2 separate regions of the Homo sapiens genome follow, and region 1 is linked to region 2. The links come from fine-mapping of genetic effects on gene expression. A gene starts in region 2. The other region holds a variant in brackets. All regions are shown on one strand. Distances are between the middles of the regions. Region 1 overlaps KLHL29 (kelch like family member 29). Region 2 holds the start of FKBP1B (FKBP prolyl isomerase 1B).

Region 1 (2,901 bases), 360 kb after region 2:
CAGGTGACGGCCACCAGCGAGCGCTGGGTCATCCCCACCATCTGACGGCCCCCAACCAAGACGATGACCTCAGCCACACCTGCAGGGACATGGATGGGCGCCCTTGGGACACACTCTAAGACTGTCGGCATCTGTGCCTGGCACCTCACTGGAACCACTGAGCCCAAGACACTGCTTCTTGGGAGGTTCGGGGCGTGCCCCTTCATACCTGCAGAGAGGCGCGGCCGGGTTCGGGGCGTCTGCATCTCCTGGCGGGCGTGGGGCAGCATATGGTAGCGTTTGGCCTCGTTCACCAGGTCCCGGCAGGCTTCTGATGACTTGATCAGCTCTTCATTGTCAACCACATTGAGCAGGTAGCTGGGGTGGATGAAGGGGAGGCGGACCACGGCCAGGAGCTCAGCCGCGTACTGCAGGGTACAGGAGACAGAATCTTCTTAGACTAGCAAGAGAGAGCCACCTCCCGGACGGAAAGAAATGGTGTGGGGCTGCACAAGAATGGATAATTCCAGGCTGTGTTAGGCTTGGGAGTGTAGATACTCTGCTAGCCTAGACAGAGGTGAAGGGAAGTCTAGTCAGCTGGAGGTGTGGAGGGGAGGGCCGGGAGCGCAGGGGTGCGGAGGGGAGGCTGGCAGGCTGCAGCCAGCCCTGCAGGAGTGGGAGCATGTGTTCATCCCCCCAGCACCCCATTCTCTCACTCCACCTGGGGCTGTGGACCCCTGCTGCAGATCAGGCCACTGGGGGCAGGGGCGAGGGGTTAAAATGAGGAAGACGCGATTATTAAAGAGCTGTGAGTGTGACAAGGACTCAGGAACAGGTGGGAGGACCCAGGAAAGCTTCAAGGAGATGGCGACTATTGAGCTTGTAAGTCTCAGCCGTGGGAGCCTGTGTCTCTCCAGCACCGAAAACTTTCAGTGGTGTCCCATGTCCCACGGCCTCAAACTGTCACCCTGCACTGAGGTGGTTTTACAGGCTCCCTTGAATCTCCCCTCCTAACAAACTCTGCTCATCACTCTACTTTCGTTTCATCCCATGAGTAACGAGACCACCATAGGCCAGGCATGACGCTCATCACTGGGGGTGCAGAGACCACTGTGACCCAGTTTCAGACCTCAAGGGGTACACAGTTTAATGGGAGGGGATCTGCTATGAAAAATTCACGAGGGGCAAGAGGAGTGTCT[A/G]GTGAGGGTTTGTAGTGGGTGCAGGAGTAAGAGGTTTTGCAGAGGGAATGGCATCTGGATGGGGTATACAAAATGGGCAGACTTCTGCCAGGCACAAGGTGGATGGGAGGGTGGACATTCGAAGCCCGTGTAGAGGCGTCAGAGAGTGAAAGAGAATGGTGTGTCTGGAGAATTGTCTGGGGTTTATTCTTACGAGATGTAACAGGATTTTGTTGAGGAGGCGTTTAGGGAGACAGGGAGAAGTGAGAGGAGAGAGGCTGGGGAGGCCAGCTCATGCTCATGCTCAACAAGGACTGCACAGTTTCCCCTGTGGAGTCGACGAGGCAACTGAGGAGGGGTTTGAGTGGATGGATGAGATGTTCAGTGTGCTTTTAGAGAGACCGCTCAGGCTGGAGGGTGGAAAATGGATTTGGAGGGAGCAAGACAGAGGCAAGGAAACCACTTAGGAGGTGCTGCAGTAATCCTGGCGAGAGGAGGAAGGTCTCGATGGGGAGAGGGAAGTCGATCCACTTAAAGGGGAGGAAGGAGGCAGGAATGAGCGCGTGTAGCGAAATGGCTATGGGAGAAGTGGGAGGAAGCTAAGCTTCAGTTCTGGGGACCAGGCATCGCTGAAATAAGGAACAGGAAGAGGTGTAGGCTTTCGGCTTGGTGAATTAGACGGATCTGCAGGACATTCTGCTGGAGAGGCCCAGAAGGCCACTGAGCAGAGGGGTCTGGAGCTCAGGAAAGGGTTTCAGCCTGAGACACAGATCTGGGAGTCATAGGGACTTGTGGCTGTCACTGTTATTAGCTGCCCCATCTAACTTCCTACCTCTGAAAAGAAACCCTGCCTCCCACCTGATCTGAGGACCCCTTTCTCTGGGGCTCAATGGCGAGATCTGGGGCGGGAGCCCTCTCTGTATCCTCTGTTTACCCAACACAGTCCCCTCAGGACCTCACTCTCCCTCTTCCTGCATGCAGGGGTTTCCATTTGGTCCATTGCGGGCTGTCCATCCCCTCAACAATCAGAGCAGGTATGGGCTCCTCCAGCTGGGTCCGTGTTCCTGGGAGCCCCAGAGCCCCCTGGCTCAGGGACCCACTTCTCCCTGCAGAGTGCAGGTGCTGCGGCTCTTGGCCGACTTGGGTCTCCTTTGGGGTGGAATGCCAGCCCTTGAGGATCCTTTGGTGACTGGTTTCTCACCTCTCTGCCCGCCCTTCACCTCTCTGCCACTTAGGGAGAGCAGGACAAGGAAGGTTCACTTCCTTCCTCCTTGCTGCAGACCCCATTGCCGCAGGGGGACCCCAAACCCAGAGAGAAGGGGCGGGGGACAGGGCAGGCCCCACCTGTGTGCGTGTCGCGGGGTCCTTCTTGATCCACTTGATGACTGTCTCGTACACCAGCTCCTCAGCCTTGGTGTTGAGGCTGTCGTTGGAGACGTAGGCGATGAAGTCGTCCTTGGAGATGCTGAGGATCTCCTCCTGGGCGGCCACCTCGGGGAAGATCTGCAGCGCGAAGGCCTTGGCCATGTGGTAGAGCTCGCTGCACTGCATGGCCTCGGCCATGGCCAGCACGCCCAGGCAGTTGCTGGCCGTCAGCTGCTTCTCTGGGGGCGACAGCGCAGGACCACTGACCCAAAGGCCCGGGAAGCAGTTGCCACCTGTTCCCATTGCTGTCACCCTAGATCCTTCTCTGAACCCACATCCCGGGGGACCCTGACTGCAGTGTCCAGAGTCCCTGCAGGCC
Region 2 (2,901 bases):
AGTCTTCAGGCTATGATATAGAAAGGGAGTGAATATGAGATTGGGGACGAGATTGAAAGCAGGGAGGAGAGACTGAAGATGGGGAGATTAGCTCAGGGGCTGCTGAGGGATGAAAAGGCCTCAGGGAGATGCTTTCTGGGACCCAGCAGCAATGTTTCCTGCGTGGGCAAAGAAGCCTGTACTCCAGGGGATATCTGAAGTAGTGGCTGGGATTGGACAAGGAAGATGGCCTGGAGCCAAGAAGTTATCCAATTTCCTGGGGAGGGGAGCTGTTCATATTAATAATATCTGATATGAAGTTTGCCCATCAAACCCTGCAGACAATGGGGGCTTTGGTATTAATTAAATTTCAAGAAATAAAGAAATGGCTATTCCTTGCACACCCAGACCCAGTAATACAAGGACTTGGGAAAGTGAGACACGGAAGGGGGATAAAGAGGATCACTTAGGAGAGAAGGTGGGAAGCGAGAGTTCTGTTTTGGACTTGCTGACCAGGGAGCACCCTGGGACGTCCAGGGAGAGGTTCGGCCGTAGGTCGCAGGGCTGGGCTTAGAAGCTTCAATGTGGAGGCCATGGGAGTGGACAGGGTGGCCAGGGAGTCTGAAAGCGGCGGCAGGATAAAGCGAGATCCGGAAGCGGGCAAGGGAGCGCTTCCCCCTTCCCCAGCCTGGGTCTGTCCCCACAGCCGCTCACAGCCCGGCCCGCAGGGAAGCGACCGAGGGGAGGCCCGGCGGGGGACGCGCTAGGAGGAGGTCCCCGAGCAGCGGGTATCCGAGAGCAGGTCCTGCTTTCCAGAGCTCGCCGAGTAGGGCAGGGAAAGCGAAGCCGAAACCCAGGCTGGGGTATCAGCAGCAGCGGATAACCGAACGACTGCAGCCGCGACAGGAGAAGCCCGGGGCGGTGGCGGGCCGCAGACCCCCGCCTCCGGGCCGCAGACCCCCGCCTCCGAGCTGCCGCCTACATTCCCCTAGGTGAGCGCGGAAGAGGATGGCGGAGGATGGTCTCCTAGACCCCCAAGAATCCCGTCCGGCGTCTCCGCCTGCCTTCCCCATCCAGCCCCCCGACCCTTCAGCACCCTCCACGCCACCTCCGAATCAGACCCCCGCCCTCCGGGCTCCGCCCCGGGACCCCTCCCCTCCCCTGGCTCCGGAGGGAGCCCGGTACCGTCTCCGGGGGAGATGGTCTCGATCTCCACGCCCATAGCGGTCCCACAGGCCCCGCCTCTGGGGGGTCCCTGCTGCTGCCCGACCCCGGCTCGGCTCCGGCCCCAGCCCCGCCGTCGCTCCGGCTCGCCTCCTCGCCGCCACTGCAGAGCCGGAGGAGGTGCGGCTGGAGTCGGGACCTGCGCGGGGAGGGGCCACTGGCAAGGGGGCGGCGGGGCGGAGCCGCGCGGAAAGGTGGGGTCGGCCGGGGCGGGGCCCGGGGGAAGGGACCCCGCCCGGCTGTTAGCGAGCCTGGCCCCGCCTGACGACATTAACCCACTGACCAGGGAGCGTGGTAAGCACAACCACATCCTCCATCCATCCATTCATTCGCGCATCCGTCCAATAGACATTTATTTAGCATCTAATCTGTAGTAAGCTCTGGGAAGTCAACCCAGTCCTACAGACTTGTGGGGGGTGGGGGGCAGAAGGGGCAAAGGCCGGCGATTAAACCATCATTTTATTTTTATTTTTATTTTAGACAGAGGATCTTGCTCTGTCGCCCAGGCTGGAGTCCAGTGGCGCGATCATAGCTCACAGCAACCTCGAACTCTTAGGCTCAAGCGATCCTTCTTCCTCAGCCTCCACCCAAGTAGCTGGGACTAGAGGCGCGAGCAACCACGCCCAGCTAATCTTTTATTTTTTATTTTTATTTTTTGTAGAAACGGGGTCTCGCTGTGTTGCTATCTAATGAAACCATCACTTTAATTAGATGCGCTCAGTGCCGTGCAGTTCAGAGCGTTGCGGAAGCACAGAAGAGGTTCCTACCCTCGCTAGGCGTCCTGGATCTGTAGGAGCAGAGCTGGGGGAGGGAGGGAGGACACCAGTAATTGCTGACTCTCCCCCATACCCCTAAACCCCTGTTCTCCATCTCGTGTAGTTCTGCTCGACGCACATTTATTGGGTACTCAATTTTCAAGGCAAAGAAATGCGCCCTGGGGATACCAATAGAATTAAGACAGGTTGGCTGTCTTCCAGGTACTAAGTCTGAGAGGGACGGGGACACACAGTTACTGCATGGAGTGATTAGTGCTGTGGAATGAATGAATGAATATGTAAATGAATTCTACTTTGAGTTCCTCCTCCACCAAAAAATACATTCAGGAATCTAGAAAAATATTTTTTGGAGGAGGTAATATTTGTTTAAAGGGTAATTGGGACTTTTAAAATTTTTTCCCCCTCATTATTACCTGCATTGTTCCAAAAATTGATGTGAGGCCAAGTATATCAATTTTTGGAACAATGGCTCACACCTGTAATCTCAACACTGTAGGAGACCGAGGCAGGAGGATTGCTTGAGCCTAGAAGTTCAAGACCAGCCTGGGTAACATAGCGAGATCCCGTCTCTCTCTCTCTCCTTTTTTTTTTTTTTTTTTTTGAGACAGAATCTTCACTCTGTCGCCAGGATGGAGTGCAGTGGCACAATCTCGGCTCACTGCAACCTCCGCCTCCCAGGTTCAAGCGATTCTCGTGCCTCAGTCTCCCAAGTAGCTGGGATTACAGGCGTGAGACACCAGCGTTCGGCTAATTTTTAAATTTTTAGTAGAGACAGGGTTTCACCATGTTGGCCAGGCTGGTCTCGAACTCCCGACCTCAGGTTATCCGCCCGCCTCAGCCTCCCAAAGTGCTGGGATTACAGGCATGCCATCTTTATTTTTAAAAAAAGAAAAGAAAAGAAAAAGAAAAACATAAAAACTGA

The links. PIP is the estimated chance that this variant, and not a neighbour inherited with it, causes the effect. A credible set is the group of variants that fine-mapping cannot tell apart.
Region 1: its variant is the best candidate, but not a certain one, in a credible set for the expression of FKBP1B in whole blood (TOPMed, PIP 0.82).

The regions. Positions count from the first base shown.
Region 1 is chr2:23,693,129-23,696,029 of GRCh38, reverse strand. KLHL29 (kelch like family member 29) reads right to left here. Exons shown (of 14, transcript NM_052920.2): 8 at 2,502-2,761; 9 at 209-407; 10 at 1-79. It also overlaps a transcript of ATAD2B not described here. Among named protein-coding and RNA genes, the nearest start is that of ATAD2B, 230 kb to the left of the region's middle. The variant A/G (reference allele first, on the strand shown) is at 1,179.
Region 2 is chr2:24,048,150-24,051,050 of GRCh38, reverse strand. FKBP1B (FKBP prolyl isomerase 1B) reads right to left here and starts at 1,310. Exons shown (of 4, transcript NM_004116.5): 1 at 1,165-1,310. The coding sequence starts at 1,201. RefSeq lists a silencer at 1,149-1,448.